Homo sapiens: one gene and its partners. The protein of the gene in region 6 purifies or fractionates together with the protein of the main gene of each other region. This does not show direct contact. Each region holds a gene or a part of one and is shown on either strand. Other genes may lie near its edges.

The links.
Region 1: the proteins of PTPRU (region 6) and MON2 purify together in Homo sapiens (affinity purification with mass spectrometry, with the first as the bait; one large-scale study listed by BioGRID). This does not show direct contact.
Region 2: the proteins of PTPRU (region 6) and DNAJC16 purify together in Homo sapiens (affinity purification with mass spectrometry, with the first as the bait; one large-scale study listed by BioGRID). This does not show direct contact.
Region 3: the proteins of PTPRU (region 6) and UBE3C purify together in Homo sapiens (affinity purification with mass spectrometry, with the first as the bait; one large-scale study listed by BioGRID). This does not show direct contact.
Region 4: the proteins of PTPRU (region 6) and CIBAR1 purify together in Homo sapiens (affinity purification with mass spectrometry, with the first as the bait; one large-scale study listed by BioGRID). This does not show direct contact.
Region 5: the proteins of PTPRU (region 6) and PRRC2B purify together in Homo sapiens (affinity purification with mass spectrometry, with the first as the bait; one large-scale study listed by BioGRID). This does not show direct contact.
Region 7: the proteins of PTPRU (region 6) and DSG2 purify together in Homo sapiens (affinity purification with mass spectrometry, with the first as the bait; one large-scale study listed by BioGRID). This does not show direct contact.

What each region holds. Positions count from the first base shown.
Region 1 is NC_000012.12:62,598,401-62,600,976, reverse strand, and holds the end of MON2 (protein MON2 homolog), read right to left. Parts: 3' UTR 501-2,576; downstream 1-500. UniProt on the Homo sapiens protein: Plays a role in regulating membrane trafficking of cargo proteins. Together with ATP9A and DOP1B, regulates SNX3 retromer-mediated endosomal sorting of WLS away from lysosomal degradation.
Region 2 is NC_000001.11:15,564,848-15,568,347, reverse strand, and holds part of DNAJC16 (dnaJ homolog subfamily C member 16 isoform 1 precursor), read right to left. Parts: intron 2,430-3,500; coding exon 2,349-2,429; intron 2,267-2,348; coding exon 2,168-2,266; exon of another isoform or gene 1,938-2,167; intron 1,250-1,937; coding exon 1,079-1,249; intron 571-1,078; coding exon 171-570; 3' UTR 1-170. UniProt on the Homo sapiens protein: Plays an important role in regulating the size of autophagosomes during the formation process.
Region 3 is NC_000007.14:157,176,926-157,180,425, reverse strand, and holds part of UBE3C (ubiquitin-protein ligase E3C), read right to left. Parts: intron 1,737-3,500; coding exon 1,579-1,736; intron 1-1,578. UniProt on the Homo sapiens protein: E3 ubiquitin-protein ligase that specifically catalyzes 'Lys-29'- and 'Lys-48'-linked polyubiquitin chains.
Region 4 is NC_000008.11:93,717,550-93,721,049, forward strand, and holds part of CIBAR1 (CBY1-interacting BAR domain-containing protein 1), read left to right. Parts: intron 1-1,125; coding exon 1,126-1,239; intron 1,240-3,500. UniProt on the Homo sapiens protein: Plays a critical role in regulating mitochondrial ultrastructure and function by maintaining the integrity of mitochondrial morphology, particularly the organization of cristae.
Region 5 is NC_000009.12:131,495,086-131,497,889, reverse strand, and holds part of PRRC2B (protein PRRC2B), read right to left. Parts: intron 2,151-2,804; coding exon 2,016-2,150; 3' UTR 1-2,015.
Region 6 is NC_000001.11:29,274,522-29,278,021, reverse strand, and holds part of PTPRU (receptor-type tyrosine-protein phosphatase U isoform 1 precursor), read right to left. Parts: intron 2,575-3,500; coding exon 2,266-2,574; intron 1-2,265.
Region 7 is NC_000018.10:31,543,177-31,546,342, reverse strand, and holds part of DSG2 (desmoglein-2 preproprotein), read right to left. Parts: exon of another isoform or gene 2,948-3,166; intron 623-2,947; coding exon 1-622.

The DNA of each region.
Region 1 (2,576 bases), on a different chromosome or scaffold from region 6:
CCTTGGTTTTATAATTTATTCTTAAATCACTCCAGACCCTGCCATCTCAAATCTAAACTACTCTCCTTGGCTTTCAAGGAATTTTATGAAGGGACCCAATCCTTCACAACCAACCTTGTTTCACACAATACACCAAAATGCACTGTTTTCTATTTCACAGATATGCCTTGCTCACATTATCTTGCCTGAAATCCCTCCGTATATCCTTTGAACTCATCCAAAATCTAGGTAGCCATCAAGACTAACTTTAATTTCTATCTTAACCACTGAGCTTTTTCATTTCTTTAAAAAACTTCCTTCTGACTACTAACAGCACTATTAACCTGAACCACAGAAGACTAGGCTAAGGTTCCTATTTTATGATTTCATTTTAATCTGTACTTGTCTTTTACTGTACTTTACATACTTGTTAAAAGGTCTGTATTCCCTATAAAACTGAAAACTCCATGAGGACAGAGACTAACCCAATGCTTAACGCAAAAACAGGGTCTAAACAGTTGTTAGTGATACACCAGTATTTAATTGTATAGTCTTGTATCCAGTATTATTTTATATATGCGGTTTCCTTGACTAGCTGTAATAAGCACTTGAGAGCGCTCCAAATAGCTTCTGTCATACAGCAAGGACACAGTTATTAGCACACAGTAGATTCTTAACATTCAGTGGTTGTCTGGTGAAAGGCAAAAAATTGGTCCCTATTGTGGGAAGACATGGATTTTCTGGCCATTCTTGAATGATGTGTGCCAAATGTGTTTTACTTCCCTAACCACCTAGTGGTGATGATGCTCCAGGCACAGCGCTTTAGAACACACTACATTTTGAATTCTGTTAAATACCACGATTAACTCCATTTCACAGAGGAGGACACCAAAACAGGTTAATTAACTTGCCCAAGGTCACACATTTAGTAAAATAACAGAGTTGGGATTTGCATCTAAGAAGCCTGGCCCCAGACTCTGGGCTCTTAACCACAATGCTGTTATTTATAACATAACTTCTTAAAACACACAACATATGTTTTAAATAGATAAAATGTTTTAAACCTGGACCAATAATAAAAACCCAATGCAACTTTCAAGGTCATCGTTAAGACAAATCTTTTTTTCACAGTATTTTTAGTTCTTTGTTATGTTCAAGTATATTTGTCCCAGTGCCCATCATAGAAATAGTAATTGCCTCAAGAGTATTTTTAGTTTATTTTATAAGTCTTGGATTTTAATGGACTGTAAAACATGAAACTATTGTACTGTAGTAGAAAGAACTGCTTTTGAAAAAGCAAGACATAGTGATCCACCTGGACTTTAGGTATGTGACTCTAGGCAGCTCACTTCAACCCCCTAATCCTTGACTCTTCTGTAAAATGAAAATAACTTCTTTGCAAGGCTACTTTGAGGATTAAAGGGAATAATATAGGCAAAGCCTTGGCCTGCACATACTAGGTACTCCAGAAATGGTGGTTAAAATTACGCATCAGAAAAATTATTTTAACTATATCTGACTGCAGTACACACTGAGTAACGTACAAATTCTTGTTTTATACTTTCATTACATAACAAAAAAAGGAATTTTAATGCAAATTATTTTCTTTGAGAGGTAGAGAGATAGTCTGGCATTGATATGGACAGGCAGTTTCAAAACAGCTTCACCAAATTAAAAAAAAATGCTCATAAGATTAAGATAATCTAATCTACATCAGGATTTTTACTTGACCTAGCATTTTTACTTAAAGTTCCAAATCTTTCTTTCTAAACTATTGAGAGACACTTCGTGTCTTCTGTTTATTATTTTTTCATTTTATATATTAATGGTTTTAATAAAGCTCTCAAGAACATTTCCCCTTTACTCTATAATTTTTTTTTTCCCAAAGTGATCATCCTAAACATGTGACTCACTACTCGTAAAGTCTTTAAACAGAGTAAGTGATGTGGGGTGTCAATAATGTTTCAGACTTAACGGGGATGAGAAAGCAAACACAAAGTATATTCAAGAAAAAAATGAATCACTGGTCAGATCCAAAGGTAAATTATCAAAGTGGTTATGATTTTAAGTTATAAAGAAACACTAGTGTTGCTGGAACATAATTAAAAACCTGGAATCATGCTTAATGTTAGCTGTAAAACAAATAAACAATCTGTACAATCACAGTTATAACTATATAGCTTTCATGAAAAATCTATCCTAGACTACAAAGAAAATTTGGGTTTGAGGCCAATACAATTTCATGATTATAATACATAACTGATACATCTCAACAACATAAAAATTGTAAGGAGAAAGAGTAACAACAGTGGTATTACTTTCAAGAATTGTGTTGGGAACTAAAAAATAATTTCACAAAATTAGATAAATATATCCAGTCTGACATAAACACCATATGGTAGCTGCCTTAAGAGACAGGAGTTGTATGTTACGTGTTAAATTATGACACAGAGGTAGTAGTAAGAGATGGAAAGCAAATGAAATTTGCACAGTTGGGTCTGAAGCCTAATATTTTCTTTTTCTAGATAAAAATAAAATTGCAATATAGGTATGGAGTATTTTTCTCCATCTAGTAAACATCATAGAAGGAAGCAGTT
Region 2 (3,500 bases), about 14 Mb from region 6:
TTCATTCCTAGGTTAGAACAGGACAAAGGAAAGATTCTTCTAGCCATGGTTCTAGAAGAGCAATCTAAAATCTATACTCTGTTCATTGTGGTAGTTTGAGTCCTGAAAATACCTGTTCACAGGGGCATGTTAAAAAGTCTGAAGAGTTCAAATCTCTTTGGAAAATCCTCTCAGTCTAGTTCAGGCCATGATGGGATATAAAACCTCTGTAAGGAGCCCTCCAGCAGGCGTTCCATCCATAAAGAGAGCTTGCTCAACTTTCCTTTGATGGGCCTGGATCCAAGGCCACAGGAAGGTTTCCCTCGAGATTCACCCAGGTAGAGGGAAGAGTCAACATCACTGCACGACCCTATGGCTTCCTCCTCTTCGACTGTCTTTTGGGGCTTGAAGAGGCAGAAGTATTTCTTGTGGCCATTCAGAGCCAGTACATAACCAGTGTAGTCACGCTCCATGAAATGCTTATCATATTGGTTTGGGATTGGAGCTGCATCTTGAGCAAATTCTAGTAAGTATTCTAGCCATTCTCTGTGTTTATCTAGACTCAGGAAGGAGAAGTGTAGGCAGCTGCTCCTGTAGGAAGAAGAGAATTGAGGACTCAGGGCATTTCCTGACACATTTAATTGCTGAGAAAATAAATACCCCAGTGAGACTTAAAATAATAGGAAAACGCTTTGTGTTGGATGGGGCCTGAACACAGAGAAAAAGAAGGCCTTCTGTGGGAGCCAGTGCCTCTCCAGCAGCTGCGACACTTCAATCACCCATTCCCCCATCGCTTGCTCGGTGGAACTTAACATTGCTCTTCTGGAAAATACACAAGGGCTAGAGAACAGTAACTGAAAGGGCTCAGGGAATAACACTGAGTTCAAGCTTTTCTGTTCAGAACCAACAAAACACGAAGTGAAGTGGGAAAAGAGGTCCCTGTCGCAATGGCTCAGATGTCTGGATTGGAAAGGTCACAGCCAGCATCTTGCTGTATGGATGAAGCCCCACAAGACCAAAGAGAAAAGCGTGCAATTTCAGTGTGCCTGCCTCTCTCTCTCTCACACACATACATACATGCACACACACACATGCTTACCCAGTAAATGTGTAGACCTCCAAAGCAAATTTCTGTAGTAGGCTGGTCTTGGTAGAATTCGACAGGATGAGGACCACATTCATGTGGCCTGGCCTCAGACGTACCAAGTTACTGGTGTATGTTACATCTGTGAGTTCAGTTACCTCCACAAAGCCTTTTTTAGGAATCTTGCTGTGGAGAAATATTGAGGAGTTAAGATGCTGTCAGGATAGGGGGAAAGCCGTTACTTTGAAAAGAAACAGCTGAAAGAAAATGCTATGTTCTAACCAGACTAGGTATGTTATTCACTATTCTTGAGTCTAACACATTGGTAGGATGGGGATGGCCTGACTTGGTAATCCCTGACCTACAAACAGCCTTTCTGTGCTGCTTTTCTTTTTCTTTTTGAGATAGGTTCTTGCTCTGTTTTCCAGGCTTGAGTGCAGCGACATGATCATGGCTCACTGCAGCCTCGACCTCCTGGGCTCAAGTGATCCTCCTACCTCAGCCTCCCAAGTAGCTGGGACTACAGGTGCCTGCCACCACATCCAGCTAATTTTATAAGTTTTTTGTAGAGACAGGGTCTTGCCATGTTGCCTAAGCTAGTCTCAAACCCTGGGCTCAAGCAATCCTCCCACCTAGGCCTCCTAAAAGTCTTGGGATTACAGGCGTGAGCCACTGTGCCCTGCTTGATGCTGCTTTTCAGGTGCAGAAGTTGCTCTAGGACAGAATGAAGAAGACAACTATCATTCAGTCTATGTTCTTTGTCTCGGAGACCCTGGCCTCTTGCTGCTGGGTGTGTGTGCGCACAAGACTGGTTACGTTCATTGACATTTACAGGGATAAACCACGTCCTGCTTCTGGCTCACCTAACACTTGCCTGATAGGCTTCTTTCCTTCTGCCTTCATTATGAAATCTAAGGCATCTAAACACCTACAGGGTCTTAGTAAACACAAATCACAGTGACTTTTCCCTGTAGCCACAGTTTACATGGGAGGAGGTGCATGAGAGTTCTTCTCTACACTCTATGTTCCAATGCTGCGTTATCAGATGACAGGATCTGGGGGGCAGGTGCCGGGGAGGTGAGTCTGGTGTTTTGTTAGAGAAACCTGCTGTTTTCTTTGGTGAAGCTTGGCTCAGTTTTCCCAGTCTTCTCTTGGGCTTCCTCTTTTTCTGGAGGGCTTGACTCTCGCTCATCATTAGAGTCGCTAAAGTAAGAAAAAAGGAGTTTTACAAAAAAAGTGTCAACACCAACCATGGTGGTGCACCGAGAAGCCACAGGACATTTACCTGAAAGCCTGAACGATGACAGTGCCGAAGAGGATGAAGAGGGCAGAGAAGATCAGGGACAGCAGGGGCATCATTTCCCTCCTAAAACCAAATTAACAAACTATTAGCTCAAGTTAAAATTTCTTCTCTCCAGCTAAAAAAAGATAAAATAAAAATCCCAAACCAAAAACTCTTCACACCAATAAACGCTTACTAATTTCAGGCAAACAGAGCTTTTCTTGGCGGGTGGAGGTGGTGGAGGGGAAGGTAGAGATTGCTCAGTGTTCTAATTCACAGACAGCTTATTCTAAAAGTTTGATTTTGTATCTCAGTATAATAGGCTATGCTCAATAAGTTCTGCATGAGGAAACAATAAAAGGGATAATAAAGGACTTAAGGTGTAAACATGGAAGAATTTTCTGACATTGTGGAATTATTTCCTCAACTTTACTGATTTTTTTCTGGCCAGAAAAATTCAGATGTAGCCCAGAGGGGTGGAGTAGGGAGATAAAATTGATCTTTCAAGATTTCATCTAGGACTGGTGTTCTGAAATTTTATGTACCTACCAACACCCATCAAAGGCTGTCATTTGTCAGGTGCTGTGTTGGGTGCCAGGAATCACAAACACGAATGAGATGTGGTTCTGTCCTTCAGGGGCTCATGGTCTCATCAGTAGGTGGGAGTGGGTATCCCTCTTGAGGTTAATTCACTCATTCCTTTTACATCTATACACTGGACTCCACGTGTGTCAGGCCCTGTGCTGGGCACCAGAGGTTCCCTGATGAAGAGACAGTCCCAGGCTCTGCTGCCCAGAATGGCAGCCATGGGTGATCCTTTCCTAGCCAGTGGGAAAGGGTCAGTCAGCCAATATAAAAAAAGGGAAGTGGCCGGGCATGGTGGCACACGCCTGTAATCCCAGCACTTTGGGAGGCTGAGGTGGGTGGATCACCTGAGGTCAGGAGTTCGAGACCAGCCTTACCAACATGGTGAAACACTGTCTCTACTAAACATACAAAAATTAGCTGGGCATGGTGGTGGGTGCCTGTAATCTCAGCTTCTCGGGAGGCTGAGACAGGAGAATCGCTTGAACCTGGGAGGCAGAGGTTGCAGTGAGCTGAGATCGTGCCACTGCATTCCAGTCTGAGTGACAGAGTGAGACTCTGTCTCAAAAA
Region 3 (3,500 bases), on a different chromosome or scaffold from region 6:
GATAACTAGTGAAACTCATATGAAAGCTTGAAAGCTCTTTTGCTATGAAACTAAAAAGATAAAAATACATCAAGAATTTTAAAAAATACACAGAGACTTTTTTAAAAAAGTGACTAACATAACTAACAATGTACTTACTGAATAGACTGACAACATGACAAAGGTTCTGTTGCAAATGTTAAAAAGCTTCATGGCACAGAATGTGCAATAACAATACAAATAATGGTAATACTATAATTTAAAAGGCTAAAATTTTATCGACTGTTAGAAAGTAAACAACTGCTGTACCACAGAAGATGCTAGAAGCGGCAGTTTCTGTGTAAGATTTTTAAGCATTTCGTATATTGGGACACATTTCAAATAATGCATATTTCTTAAATATCTTCCTTACAATTTTAGAAAACAAATACAAATTCTCAAACGCTTAGTCTTAAAACAGTATATATGTCAACTAACACAATGAACCACTTTTAATTATTAGTTTTTAAAAAGATCAAATTCCACAACTTTCAGTTTACTTTTAATTAACTCGGAATACTGTTTCCCTAAGTTTTCAACAAACTAAGGAGTCTAAAAAATAGTAACACGCCAAGCAGCAAGGCTGAAATGAGTATGCGTTTAATTTCTGTAGTTTTGACAGAGGACCAAGAGGACCAAGTGGTCCAGACTTCAAGTCCGTTAGATGTAACCCAGACTATGACTTCAGGTGAAGGAAAGCACAGCTGCTTATAATTCTGTCTGCAGCCACGGCTCTCCAGACCTCCCTTCACAACTAGTCTCACGCACATTTTTAATGCTGACAAATACTTCTCGAGCCCAGGAGTCCTGAAGTGCTTGGGTTTCTACCTATGAGGATGTCGAGACCAAAGGTTCTTTTGTGTTAGGATTTATACTGCTCACTTCATAAAATTTTTAAAAATCATGTTTATTTCATCCTTTTTCTCCAGAAAGTGTCACTAATGTGTCCTCAAGGGTTTCAGATGCAGTTCAGTATAGCTTCTACGATGCAGTCATTTTAGGAGCATTATCAATGTATTAAAACTTTAGCACTGAGTTAGAAAATTCAAACTAAATATCCTATTCTCTTCTACTGAACTAATGTGAAAGGACCTCACTCTTGGAAGAAAAATCATTTAACAAAATTTACTTTTTCATAAGGCTCTTGGAGTGATGTTCAACTCATACATTGGTGGCATTACCTTTCCCATTCACTCAGAATGACCAGGAGGTGGTAAGAGCCCTTCCTGGTCAGGTGAAGGACCGGCAGCTGCACTGCAGACACCAATCTTGGATGACGGGACAACTGATGAAAGCATATGTCAATTTTGGTTCACTTCCAAGCAAAAGAAAAAGGCAAAGAGAGTAGCATGTTTCTGAATTTTCAGAGTGGGTGGAGCCAAGGACAGATTTTGGAATCTGGGACTCTGGTGGGCACCTGTGGATGGAGCACAAGGCGTCTGGGACACCAGTACCGCTCTGACATTGAGACTGAGGGCACAGGCTCACAGCAGCAGGCTGGCCTCTGCTCACTCCCCATCAGGATGCTGAGCCACAGTTCTGATCCTGCCTACTACTTACCATTGTGAATCATGTAGTGCAAAATTTGTTCAATCACTGACACCACATAGCTAGCATCTTGTAAAACAGGCAAGTAAGTATTCTCAGACGAAAATACTTCAAGCATTCTCATTGGAAGTGCAACATTCAAACTGTCATCATTACAGTTTTGCAGCAACCTGTAAAAATGAAAAAAGTATTCACACACTTACAGGATGGCAAAATGTCACCAGTTTCCCCAAGTTACTCTCAGTGACAATGGTTAAGAAACTATTCCAGTACAAGATTATCTCTGAAAATAGGGACATCTTACAGATAGACAGGGAAATCATCCAACTAACATTCAGTCATTCAGACAGTTTTTAAAAGAATTCTCGTTATGTGCCAAACGGTATGCTGGCACTAAGTTCACAGACAAGAAAAATGGACAGTGGAGAAATGAACACGAAAAATTAAAGATTACAAAACACTGTAAGAAGTATTATAATCCATGAATTGTACCAAGAAGCTGCATTTAATTAAACTCAGATACGAATCTCTTTAACAGTGCATCTCATCTCCTTAAAGATGCTTTTGAGACTTTCCACGCCTGCAATATCCCCCAAATAGAACAATGATATATTTCTGGTCCTAAGTCAACTCTCATTTTGACTGAGGCTTCCCTTCTTACTATGAGAAGAACTGCAGGTTAACTATCCGTTTAGAGAGGGCAGCACAAGCAGTCGGGCAGGCCGCACCAATCAAGACACAGAGCACATCTGCCACTCCCGAAAGTTTCTTCTTGGCTGTCTCTAGTCCACTCCTCCCTCTTTCCCCCCACCCCAATCCTTTTTTCTATCAAAAACTTTGTCTAACACCGAACTTATTTTTAGATTTCTCCTGTTGCTTTCACAAGGTATTTTACAGCTGTTTTTCCTTTTTCTTAAAAAAAAAAAAAAACAGAATCCATCTGACCACACATCACCTTTAATGAGGGACCCAGGAGGCTGTTTCAATGCCTCACTGAAACTAACTTCTCTATGTGACAAAAGCCTTCTGCCCTGCCAGGAGGGGAATAACGTGCAGGGTTCTGGGTGGGGTGTGTCTACACGGCTTATCCGCTTACCGCAGGCTGCCTTCTGTCTCAACAGCCGCAAAGCCCAGGAGAGACAGGGGGTGAGGACCCAGCGGGCAGGCTGGGCAGGACACCCAGCCAGACCTTGTTTTGTCTTTGCCCTTTTCACAACTTTCCCCTCAGCACCACACTGGTGTCTCTCGAGGGGTGTACGAGTGCAGGAGGAGCGGGGCTACACATAACAAGCCGCTGGGACGCAAAGGGCAGCGGCGGGCGGTGGGAGAGCCTCTTGTCAACCTGGAAAAGTCAGCAGCATGTGTGCTGATAATCCCATGTGAGAGGTAAACCTGATAATGCAACAGAGAGAAGTGCTGGAACGGTGCCTCGTGTGAGAGACAACATAGGATGTAGCTCCAGGTTTATCGGGACAGCCTTGGACGGGAAAAGGATATCCATATTGTCAAGAGACAACCCACCTTAAAAAATGAAGTAAAAGATTTGAACAGACTCTTGAAAAAGAGCCATCTGAGTGACCAGTATGCTCCTGAGAAACACCCGTCATCATTAGTAATCCAGGAAATACAAATTCCAATCACAATAAAATACAGCTACACACCCATCAGAATGGCTGGGTTTTGACAAATGTCAATACCAAGGGTTCAGGATATGGAGGAACTGCGCCTCTCCTATGCTGCTGTCCTAAGTTTGGTAGTTTCTTCTAAAGTGAAATATATAACTACTATGTGACCCAGTGATTCCATGACTTCAGAAATGTTCAACGGCATTAAAAAATATGTATGTGATTAGTCATAAAAGGAGCTGCAGGTGGTTCTGGAAGGCCACATTTACAGAAAAAGAAAAATTCAATGTTCTGGCACGTGGCAGATAA
Region 4 (3,500 bases), on a different chromosome or scaffold from region 6:
TAATGCTCCCTTAAGTGTTTTTCCAATCATCTAGGAAGAATGGGGCTGGAGGAAAGAATCACAGGCCACTGATAAGTATCTATATGGCTATCCTCCAAAGTATATGACCACTCCTTTCTGGGTTATCTTAGGAGAGCAGGGATGAAGGAAAATGTGTATTTGACTACTGCCTACTAATATAATCCATGCTTGAGTATTTTCTGCCTTGTTCTTATTCAGCCCAGTTCTCTCTACATTGCTTATTTTGTTATAATTAACAAAATGATAAGATCATATTTATTAAAAACTTGCCTGGTTTCCATCTTTTCCACACCTACTGATTACCTCACCCCCTGCTTAGATCAACATGCACATCTTCACTCATACTCTTTGTTCATGATCTTCCTTGTCATAGGTTTCCATCATGCTTATAGAGGTTACCTGCACGGTTTATCTGTGAAGGAAATGATTGATTCCGGCAAGAACAGCACAGTTCAGTGGGCAATAGCAAAAAAACCTTAAATGAGCTATAACCTTGTAGCCTTAGAATCAGATCTGTGTCTAAAGAGTCTGACCTGTGAGCAACACTGGGCAAGTCAATATTTGTAAACTAGAACGCTCTATGCAAATATATGGTGTTATCATCAGTGGCAGGAGTGTCATTACTACCAAGTAACTCCTTTATGTTTAGAGAATACAAGTAGCATACAGTGTGGAACATAATTCCTGTTTAAAAAACGTTCTCCTGTTTAAACATCAGTTGGAATTGCTAAAACACCAGCTTCATAACTGAACTGCTCTAATACTTAATAAGCATATGGTATTAAAATTATATAGTAGCATACATTTTAGTCAGATCTTATGTTATTATAAATGTCAATTACTAGGTATAAAGAGAACTAACTAAAATAAAAAATAAGAGGGAAGTGGATGGTGATAAAGGAAATACTTTGTATTATTTGAAGGTTTGGCAGCAAAAGGTCTTCACAACTGTTTTTCAGTTATCTTTTGTACTTTATTTACCCTATAGAAAAACAGATACTTCTGTATTTTATAAAATACCAAGACTATAGTGAGGAATAAAGTTACTATATTCATAAAGAAATTTAAATCATTGTTTAAATTCAATTCTTTGGTTTTTTTTAGACTATATTTTCTGAATTTATCACAATCGAAATGTTATTTCACGGCAAAGCTTTAGAGGTCTACACTGCTGCCTACCAGAATATACAAAACATTGATGAAGATGAAGATTTAGAGGTAGGACTATGTCTATCTAAGCTCAGTTCTTCTGTTAATGTGGAAATATTTAAAAGAGAACATTAGTATGTGATTAATATCTTTTTTTTTTTTGAGACAGAGTCTCACTCTGTTGCCCAAGTTGGAGTGCAGTAGTGTGATCTCAGCTCACTGCAACTTCCGTCTCGTGGGTTTAAGCAATTCTTCTGCCTCAGCCTCCTAACTAGCTTGGATTACAGGTGCCCGCCACCATGCCCAGCTAATTTTTGTATTTTTAGTAGAGATGCAGTTTCACCATGTTAGCCAGGCTGGTCTTGAACTCCTGATCTCAAGTGATACGCCCACCTCGGCCTCCCAAAGTGCTGGGATTACAGGCATGAACCACCGTGCCCAGCCATGATTAGTATCTTAACTTTGAACACTATAGTGGTTATTATGTGTAATCCAAAATAGATGAACTTTTATGATTTTCCATTTATTTTCAATTTTTCAAATTAACCATGGCAAAAGTTCCAAGAGTTAATTTATTAATAGCTAGTAAAATATAATTTACATAAAGCCATTAAATAAAATACTGTGTATCATTTTGACTGGTGATATAAGCCCACTGAAGTGTGCTAAAAAATAGTTAACATTTATTGACTTCAGTAACATTTGAGTGTTTACATCATGCACAATGCCCAAAGCTTTACATGCATTTTCTCATTCAAACCTCAAAATCTTAGGTGGTAGGTGCTGCTATAACTCTCATTTTACAACTACAGAAGCAGGCTTAGAGGATTTAAATAACTTATTTGTGGCCACTTAGCTAGTAAATAGCAGAATCAGGATTCTGACTGACTGTGTAATGTAATCACTAAGCTATGAAATAAATGTAGGTTATGTAAGCTTGCTTTATGCTGATGGTTTTAGTTAAATGCAAATAATTCTGATTGGCCAACTAACATTAGAGCAAGTAAATATCAAAGACTGGTCCTCAATGAGCAATTCTGTAAATATCCAACCCTCTTACCTTCCAAACGGAAAAAATGAAGGTACGAAAGTATTTATGCTGAAGTAACTGTTCAAGACATACTTTCCCCATCTCATCTCTAATATAGAAGTGAAAAAAGCCATGTAATCCCACATATAACAAGAGTTCTGTATTAATAAAATATGGAAGTGTCTACCACTTAACAAATTTGAAGATTCCCCCGATTTTTTTTTTTTTTTTTTGTATCTTCCCCCGCCTTCCAAGACAGAGTCTTGCTCTGTCACCCAGTCTGGAGTGCAGTGGTGCGATCTCGGCTCACTGCAACCTCCGCCTCCTGGGTTCAAGTGATTCTCCTGCCTCAGCCTACCTAGTAGCTGGGATTACAGGTGCCTGCCACCATGCCCGGCTAATTTTTCTATTTTTAGTAGAGATGGGGTTTCACCATGTTGGCCAGGCTGCTCTCAAACTCCCGACCTCATAATCCGCCCGCCTTGGCCTCCCAAAGTGCTGGGATCACAGGCGTGAGCCACTGCGCCTGGCCTAGTTTTTTTTGTATCTTAACTATCAGTAAAGAGACCCTCTGAGCCTTCCTGTCCCATTACTCCACGGGCTCCAGGAAACTTAAAACCAGAATATAGGTTAAAGAGAATGAAGAAAGTACATATTACAGTATGTGTATATGTGTTTCTAATGTCAAAATCTAATTTGTTTTATATCAGTTATATATACATATTTATATTTCTCTATTTGTCAATCATGACTTCCCAAGTGTTAATTCCAAACACTACAGCTAAGGTTTCTTAACTTTCACTCCTTTTCATGTCCTGCTTTTAAAAATTGATTATGAAGGCCAGGCACAGTGGCCCACACCTGCAATCCCAGCACTTTGGGAGCCCAAGGCGGGTGGATCACCTGAGGTCAGGAGTTCGAGACCAGCCTGGCCAACATGGTGAAACCCCATCTCTACTAAAAATACAAAAATTAGCCAGGCTTGGTGGCACGCGCCTGTAATCCCAGCTACTCGGGAGGCTGAGGCAGAAGAATCGCTTGAATCCGGGCGTCAGAGTTTGCAGTGAGCCAAGATCATGCCACTGCACTCTAGCCTGGCAACAGAGTGAGACTCCATCCAAAAAAAAAAACTTGATTATCAAGCTTTCATCTGTCATTTATAAAATAATAAAATAGCAAACGTTTATATAATTACTTTGAGTCAGCTACTGATCTTTGCATTTTAACTATATCATTTTAATCCTCTCAATAACTTTGATAAAAGTACTTATTTCTGATTTCTGTGGATGAGAAAACTGAA
Region 5 (2,804 bases), on a different chromosome or scaffold from region 6:
ACAAGCAGCCGCTTGCAGTGGGAGAAGGAAAAGCAGACAAGAAGCTCAGGTAGGGAATGCCTGGAACTGTCGGGTGGGCAGCCCCTGGGGAAGGGACTCAAGCATAAAGGCTTGGGATAAAGAGGGAAAAGACCAGGTGAGGGCAGGAGGGGAGCTGCTGAAAGATGCAGGTGAACAGTAAAGCACCTTTCAGTAAAACTGCCCTTTCCCAGGCAGCTCTGGGGTGGGCGCTGTTGGTAGGAGGCCGTTCTCCCGCTTCCTTAGAATTGTGAGAGCAGTAAGAAGTTACTTCAGCAGTTCCTAAGATGCTCCTTCCCCATGTTCTACACTAGACACAGAGCTTAGAGCCCAAGCCTGAGCGCTGTCCTGCACCCGTGAGACGCTGAAGGCAGCCTCTGGTGGGGGGTGCATCCCCGGCCCCCTCCTCTAGGTGTTCTGAGCCAGCCTCCTCTGGAGGAGGAGGTAGACGCTCAGTGACCCCTAAGAACAGCTGAGAAACCTGAACTGTCCCCTTCCCTTTCCTTGGAATGACAGAATCTGGAGTGATTTCCTTGTTTCTTACTTAAAAACAAGCCCAGCACACGATGGCTCACACAAGCCTCTGGCTGGAGAAGCTGCCCTCCCGGAGGCTGCGCAGGCCCTTTGGACCTTGGTCAGCCCTCCACCCAGCCTCACCCTGGACCTGCCCCCGCCGTCTGAAGACAAACGAGACTGATGCCTACTGCTTAGCTCAGGCCCTCCTGTCCTGACAACCTGGGTCTGCTGCTGGGAGTGAAGCAAAGGAGGAAAAGGACAAACTCCCAGTGGCCTCACTTGGGGACCACACACGGGTCCACTCCCTCCATCACCAAGTGGTGTTCACGATGAGCTGTGTGGGAGGTGGAGACAGGTCCAGAGAAAGCAGCAGGCTCCGGAAGAGGAAGGAAGGAAAATGACAGGTTACAGAAGGCTTCAGGGAAAGAAATGTGTGAAAAACACAGCACCCCTGCAGGGCAGGGTATGGAGCCCCAGAAGCAGAGCCCACGGGGCCTGGGATGGGCCTGTGGTATGTCAGCTCACCCCATCTGGGCCAACCTGGGAGCCACCAGCAGCCATCTCCATGATTTGTCTCTGGTGCCCAGCACATCCACTGGCTTTAGAGGAGCCCAGGACAGGGACCCTGTGTGATTCTCATGCTAAAACTGTCATCAACTTCATGGGCTGCCTGTAAGCGCCCTGGGCTCATCAAGCCAGGAGCTGGAACCCAACTATGACCCCCCCCCTCCCCCAACCTGCCTGCTGCTCTGAGCACCCCATCGCTTCCCAGGCGGGGAGCCAGGCACCAGAATGCTCGCAATCGGTGCCCTCAAGAACCTCCTTTTCTTTTTGCAAATAACCTCAAGGGTGAACCAGCTGAGGAATCAGGAGGGGATGCATTCTTAAGAGTCACCTCTTAAGGTACTGCAGTGACGTATCAAACTAAACAGGACAGAGGCTAGAGATGGAAGGGAGCGGAGGGGCTGGCAAGAAACATATAAAAGTTCAGCTATACACATGGAGCTTGCGTTTTTGTTTTCTTTTCCTTTCCCCTTTGTAAAAACCTTGGCTACATTTTAAAACAAAAAGCCTCAAAGTAAAATGACCCTGCTGCCAAATCACTGTGCCTAGGGATGGGCGGCTGGGCCGGAAGCACTGCTGAGAAGGCGCCCTGGCTGCGCGGCAGGACAGGGAGGAGGCAGGGAGGGCAAATCTGCACTGCACAGGAGGCGTCACTCCACAGTCACGGTAGGAGCAGATGGGATGAAGGAGTCGTCTGCTTTTTTGTTTCGTATCAAAGCAAGCGGGTCAATGCCATATATCCACGGGTGCAAGCTGGTTGACAACGGAGCTTTCGGGAGTGGAGAGGAGGGAGGTCTCTCAGTCTGGGCCACGCATTTGGACGGTGGATCTGGTGAGGCTCCCGAGTGTCGGCTGTGTCGAGGCCGCATGGCGGCACCGTCCTCAGTAGGGAGAGGCGAGGTGGCAGCCAGGCACTGTCAGGCCTTACTCTCCTCCACTTTGACAGCCCGAGGCTTGATCGCTCCGGTTCGCTTCATCTGGGAGGCAGCCGAGGGGGCCTCCTGCAGCTTCACGGCTCCCAGGCTGGGTTTCTCATCCACTCGTTGTTTTGCCTTTGGACAGATGAATGGGAAAAACAAAGTGACCCTGACGCTGAAACGTGTTTGGATACATAGTTCCCACCACTCCCTTCCTGCTCCTGAGTTGCAGGGAAAGCTCCCCTAAGTTGTCAGTCCCTTGGTTGAAGGACCAGACTTAGAAACCCCCCTCCTAGTAAGGAAAGTGGCGCGAGTGCCGTCTCTGCTCCCTCCCCATAAGCCCTGAGTGCAGTGATTCGGAGAGGCAGGAAGACACCGGGTCCTCCACAAAGAATTCCGCGATGGCACATCCCAGGGCGGAAGCAGTTCTGGTCCCAAGGCCAACTGGAAGAACCTTTTCAAATCAGTGCACCTCCTGCCCCACAGGCAAAAAAGGCCCCTTCAAGTAGATCCAAGTGCCCCCTGCACGTCTCGGAGCCCCCGACTGTCTGCTGGGGCCCTAGGCAGACTTGGCCCCCACAGATCTCTGGCCGCGATTCAGCCAACCCCCCCACCATTCCCACTCTGTAACCTTTCCCTGGGGCCCCATTCCTAGTCAGGGCTCCCCTGGTCTGTGGCTCTACACGGGGAGTGGGGTGGGGAAGTCACAGAGCAGCCAGCGCATCTGCCCCCCACCAGGTCTGAACTCTGGAAGAAAGCTTTAGAAGCTCATTCCACACAACTTTCATG
Region 6 (3,500 bases):
ATGGTGAAACCCCCATCTCTACCAAAAATACAAAAAATTAGCCGGCGTAGTGGTAGGTGCCTATAATCCCAGTTACTCGACAGGCTGAGGTGGGAGAATCGCTGGAACCAGGAAGGCAGAGGTTGCAGTGAGTTGAGATTGCACCACTGCTCTCCAGCCTGGGCAACAGAACAAGACTCCATCTCAAAAAAAAAAAAAAAAAAAAAAAAAAAAAAAAAGAATGACAACTGTGAAGCCAGATGGTCAGGTTAGAAAGCCAGGCTTTCTGTGACTTCTTCTGTAAAATGGGAATAGAAATAAAATGGGAATAGAAATAGTAACCTACCACATAGGGTTGTCATGGGTATTAAATGCAGTAATATATCAAAACCATTCAGAATGGTGCTTGAATGTGCTAAGGGCTAAATATTAGTTTGACATATGTAGAACACTGCATTCAACAGCAACAGAATACATGTTCTTTTCAAATACACTGGAACATTTACCAAAATTTAACAATATGTTGGGCCATAAAGTAAAGATGAAATTTCACAAAATAAAATTTAGAGTATATACTCTGACTACAGTGGAATTAACCTAGAAATCAATAATAAAAAGACAATTAGAAAAGTCCCAATTGCTGGCCAGGTGCAGTGGCTCATGCCTATAATCTCCGCACTTTGCAGGGCCAAGGTGGGCAGATCACCTGAGGTCAGGAGTTCGAGACCAGCCTGGCCAACATGATGAAACCCTGTCTCTACTAAAAATACAAAAATTAGCCAGGCGTGGTGGCGGGCACCTGAAATCCCAGCTACTCAGGAGGCTGAGGCATGAGAATCACTTGAACCCAGAAGGCGGAGTTTGCAGTGAGCCGAGATTGTGCCACTGCACTCCAGCCTGGGTGACAGAGTGAAACTGTGTCTCAAAAACAAACAAAAAAGAAAAGTCCCAATTGCTTAGAAATTAAGCAACATAATTCTAAGTAACTCTTAGGTCAAAGCAGAAATTATAACAGAAATAACAGTTCAATTGTATAGACAACAAATTGAACTGAATGATAATGAAGATAGGAAATATCAAAACTTGTGGGACACAGCTAAAGCAGGACTTAGAGGAAAATGTGTAGCTTTAAACACGTATATTAGAAATGAAGAAGGGCTCAGTATTAATGATCTAAGAAACTTCTATCTCAAAAGGCAAACAGAACAGCAAATCAACTCCAAAGAAAGTATAACAAAGGAAATAAAAAATAGAAAATAAAGAAAATCAAGTAAGCCAACAGTTGGTTCTTTGGAAAGATTAATTTATACAGTCTTCACAAGGGTAAACAAGAAAAAAGAAAACAGAAATTACCAATATCAGAAATGAAAAAGATGATATCACTATAGAGCCTATGGACATTAAATAAATATAATAAAAGAATATTGGCAAATGAAGTGGCTCATGCCTGTAATCCCAGCACTTTTGGAGGCCAAGGTGGGTGGATCACTTGAGCCCAGGAGTTCGAGACCAGCCTGGGCAACATGGCAAAACCCCGTCTCTACAAAAAATACAAAAAAATTAGCCAGGCATGGCAGTGCACGTCTATAGTCCCAGCTACTTGGGAGGCTGAGGTAGAGTGATCATTTGAGCCTGGGAGGTCGAGGCTGCAGTGAGCCATAATCATGACACTGCACTCCCACCTGGACAAAAGTGTGAGTCCCTGCCTCAAAAATAAATAAACTAGCTTGGCGTGGTGGTGCATGCCTGTAGTCCCAGCTCAGGAGGCTGAGGTGGGAGGATCGCTTGAGCCTGGGAGGAGGAGGCTGCAGCAAACTGAGATGGTGCCACTGTACTCCAGCCTGGGCAACAGAGCAAGACTCTGTCTCTAAATAAATAAAAAAAATTATAAACAACATTATCTCAAGAAATTTGACAATTTAGGTGTAATGAACAAATTCCTTAAAAAATACAGTCCATCTAAACTGATACAAGAATAAAAAAATCTGAATATCCCAATATCTATTTTAAAAACTAAAATTTACTAAAAACCTTGCCACAAAGAAAACTCTATGCCCAAATGGCTTCACTGCTGAATTCTTTCAAACACTTAAGGAAAGAAATTAGACCAATCTAACCCAAAGTCTTCCAGAGAAAAAATAGGAGCTATCACTACTTTGGTGTTATACAGTTGGTTTAATCCTAAGCAAAAAAAAGAAAAAAATACCCTCAGTAAATTTCAGTCTCAGACATGGCGTATCTGTGGGAGGTACACAGGGCCCCGGGAATTGGGACTGAGACTCTTACCATCCTCATCCGTCTGGAAAGTGACCTCCTTGCCCTCTTTGCGCCCCTCAGGGTTAGTGAGGACAAGCCTCACGTGAACGTTCCGATAGGGCAGCAGGTTCTTGATGGTGTAGCGGCTGACACCTTGCTCTGTCTTCACACACTCTCGGATGGTCTGGTTGTGGCTGCTGCCCAGGGTGTAGTGATAGCACAGCGACACAGTATAGGTGTGGCAACGCGTCACGTTGTAGCCCAGTGGTTCCCACTGCAGGGTCAGCTGACGGGCCTGGATCTCAGCAAAAGCCAGGCCTTTGGGGGCCCTCATGGGCTCTGGAGAATGCAGGAAGCAGAGAGAAGAAGTTAGAAGAAATGGGAAGAGAAGAGGAAGAAGAACAGGGAGAGAAAGCATCAGTCAGCTGCCTGAAATCATCCCTCCATTGCCCCCAAGAGCTCAGGGGACCCCTAGAACATCAAACAGGGAGTAAAAGTATGTGCTTTGGAGTCAGGCGGACTACATTTGAATCCTGGCTCTGCCACTTGCAGCTGGCAACTGCTGGCTGAATCACTTCACCCCTCTGATCCTTAGATTCCTCAACTGCAAAATGAAAAGATAATAGGCCCTGCCTCATAGGATCATTGTAAGGTTTAAGGAAATACACACAAAGGATGCATGACAATGGCTAATATACAATAAGCCCTCAAAAATATTAGCTTTTTTTTTTTTTTTTTTGACAGAGGCTCACTCTGTCACCCAGGAGGGAGTGCAATGGCATGATCTAGGCTCACTGCAACCTCTGCCTCCCAGGTTCAAGCAATCCTTCCACCTCAGACTCCCAAGTAGCTGGGATTACAGGCGTACACCACCACGCCTGGCTAATTTTTGTATTTTTGGTAGAGATAGCGTTTCACATGTTGGCCAGGCTGGTCTTGAACTCCTGACCTCAAGTGATCCACCCACCTCAGCCTCCCAAAGTGCTTGGGTTACAGGTGTGAGCCACCGCACCCGGCCAATAATTTATTTTTAATAGCACAGTTCACCTCCTAATTCAAGATCACCCTGGACTACAACAGGCCAGTCTGAATCAAACTGTTGATATATTTTTCTTAAGGTATTAATTCCAAACTTGTTCTGAAACAATGTATAGTAATACATATAATATAATAACATACAGAAATCAGGGTAATGAGGGAAATGAGAGCCAAATAGTTAAATAAAGCCAGAGAATGACAGGGAAACAGAAACAGAAATACATGAC
Region 7 (3,166 bases), on a different chromosome or scaffold from region 6:
CAACTGTACCTTCATTAGCATAAGGCTGATCTACCAAGGTAGAAGCTGGAGCATACACCCTCTCTGTCACAATAAGGCTCTGTGGCTGGCTAGGACCCAGGATCACAGTGGTTGGTGGCATAGTGGACCCTGTGACATAGGAAGTTTCTGTTGCTATCACATTTCTAGAAGCCATTGGGTCAGGAAGAGGTGTAGCTACCTTTTGCGCCTGCCTAGAAGACACAGATCTTTCAGTGACTATTTCCTGAGTTACTTTCTCTGCATTGGCTTCTTGCAAAGATTTTGGAACTGGGAAGCTACTGCCAGAGGAGTAGGTATTCTCTGAATTAACCATAGTTTGCTCACAGAGTGAATGTGAAGCTGTGTTCATACTTGTTTCTGTGGCAGGTTTTTGTCTCTGCTCAATTTCCTTATTTATATCTATTTTTTGACCCAGGCAAACTTCAGCTAGTGTCTTGAATTTAAGTCCCAAATCATCTAAGAAGCGGTCATCTAGCTCTCCTTCAATAAAACTGCAACAACCAATAGAAGCATTCAGCGATTCAGTTTCTTCCTGAGAATAAACCAGAAGGCAATCTTTGGCTGTGTGATTTTCATCTTCCTCAGTGTAAGAGGCCGCTTTCTAAAATGAAAACAAAACAAAACAAACACAAAACAGACAAATAATTAGCAATATAAATTCATTTTAAAACAAGACTCTATATTCCTGTTCAAAATGCAGTAATGTGAATTTAATTACAAGGAACCATCAGGGAAACACAAATTGAGAGAGATCCTACGACACAACTGGACTGTATTCTTAAAAAAAATTAATATCAGGGAAAAAATAGAAAGGCAGAGGGGACTGTTTCAGATTAAAGGAGACTAAAGTGTCAGGACAACTAAATGGAATGCAGGATCCTGAGAAAAACAAAATTGCTGTAAAAGATAGTGTGATAGTTGGCTAAACTGAAATATGGACTATGTCAATATTAAAGTTCTACATTTGTTAACTGTACTATAGTAATGTAAGAGAATGTGTGTGAATGTGTGTCAGTGAGAGAGAGACAGAGAAAATGGAAAAGCAAATAGCAAATGTGGCAAAATGTTTATTGGGTTCAAAATTTCTATTATTCTTGCAAATTTTCTGATAACTTTGAAATTACTTCCAAATCAAAAGTTAGTACACACATACATAACCAAGAATGACTGGAGCAGGATTAGAGTGGAGAGAGGGAAAACTTACCAAAAGAAAACAAACAGGACGCTAGAATTGAGCTTAGCAGTGAGACAGGAAAGGCCAAGAAATGGTTTTGCTTGACACCACCCACATCCCTGTTAAGCTAATACTTGAAGGTGGGTGAAGGATGGTATGAAAGATGGGAGGTTAAAAAGGAGCAGAAAGTGGGAAAGCACGCTAATAATTTGCAAATTTAGAAGAGGGGGACAGAAGTAACTTGCTTTCCTCAATGGAAGCCCCTCCCCTTACTCCTCTCTAGGGCCCTTCAGATGCCTTATATTCCAACTCTGTCCATTCTCATGGGAGCACAGGGCCTTGTTCTCAAGAAAACCACCCAGTCCTACTTTTTAAAAAATTATTCTTACTATGTCTGTAAGATCTGTAGTAAAGTTCTTTATTTTATTTCTAACATCCATAGTTTGTGCTTAATCTCTTAATATCCTAATTAGTCTGGTAAAATGTTTATCAATTTTATTGACCTCTTTAAATAATAAGCTTGTGGCTTCAATTTTTTTTCTTATTACTTTTTGCTAAATATTTCATTGATTTCTGCTCTAAAATTCATCATTATCTTATTTCTGCTTGTTTTGGGTTTAATTTGCTCTTCTAACTTCTGAGGGTGGAAGCTTAGGTCACTGATTTGAGAACCATCTTCTAATATAGCCATTTTTGCTACAATTTCCCTTCAAGCATCACTTTAGTAGTACCCCACAAATTTTCATGAAGTATAATTTAATTTGCAGTCATGTGTATTTATAAATATTTGAGTATATTTTATATATCTCTTTGTTACTGATCTCTGGTTTTAATTTTTTTTTCATCAAAGTACATTGTATGACTGCAGTTCTTTAAAAGTTATTTACATTTATTTAATGTTCTAGAATACAGTCTATATGAAAAAGCATGTGTATTCTGCTTCTGTTGCATAGAGTGTTCTGTCAGTATCAACTAGATCCATTTGGTTCACAGTACTAAGTTTTCTATATGCTTACTGATTCTGTCACTTGTTCTTTCATTTACTGATAGATCAGGTTGAACTCTCCAACTATCATTATGAATTTGTCTGTTTCTCTTTCAGTTGTTTTTGCTTTAAGTTTTAAAAATTTCTGTTATTAGGTTCTGACATATTTAGGAGTTTCAGGCCTCCTGATGAACTGACTCATTTTTCATTATGAACTATCCCTCATTATTCCTGGTAATATTCCTTGTTCTGAAGTATACTTTATCTCTATGTTATACTTTTTTTTTTTTTTTTTTTTAGACAGAGTTTCACTCTGTTGCCCAGGCTGGAGTGCAGTGGTATGATCACAGCTCACTGCATCCTTGGCTTTCCAGGCTCAAGTGATCCCCCTACCTCAGCCTTCTGAGTAGCTGGGACTACAGGTGTGTGCCAGCATGCCCAGCTAATTTTTTGTATTTTTGGAGAGATAGGGTTTTAACATATTGCCCAAGCTGGTCTTGAACTTCTGGGCTCAAGTGATCTGCCTGCCTTGACCTCCCAGAGTGCTGGGATCACAGGCATGAGCCATTGTGCCTGACCTCTACATTATACTTTTATTTTCAGTTCTGCTTCTAATTCCTCAATTCTAGCATGAGCTTCCTTATTGCATCTGATCATCTTCCTGGAACTTTTCTCATCATTTTTTGGTGGACCCTCATAATAGCAAAGCCAAGTACTCTCATACAGAAGGTAAAATTTAAATGGACTTAATAGATTGTGTTTTTTAGGTTATATATCCTCTGCCTCTCCTACGGAGCTCATCCCTACCAAGCCTGCTCCTGCAGAGGGATGCAACTTTCCGACCCACTGACATCTGTCTTGGTCATATGACTTGCTTTGGTCAATGAAATGTGGTGTAAAAAGGTGGAGGCTTTGAGAGCCATTGCCTGGTTCTGCCTTGTTCTTTTCTTTGGGTCACAAGGACGGCAGCTTCCCAGGTACAATCT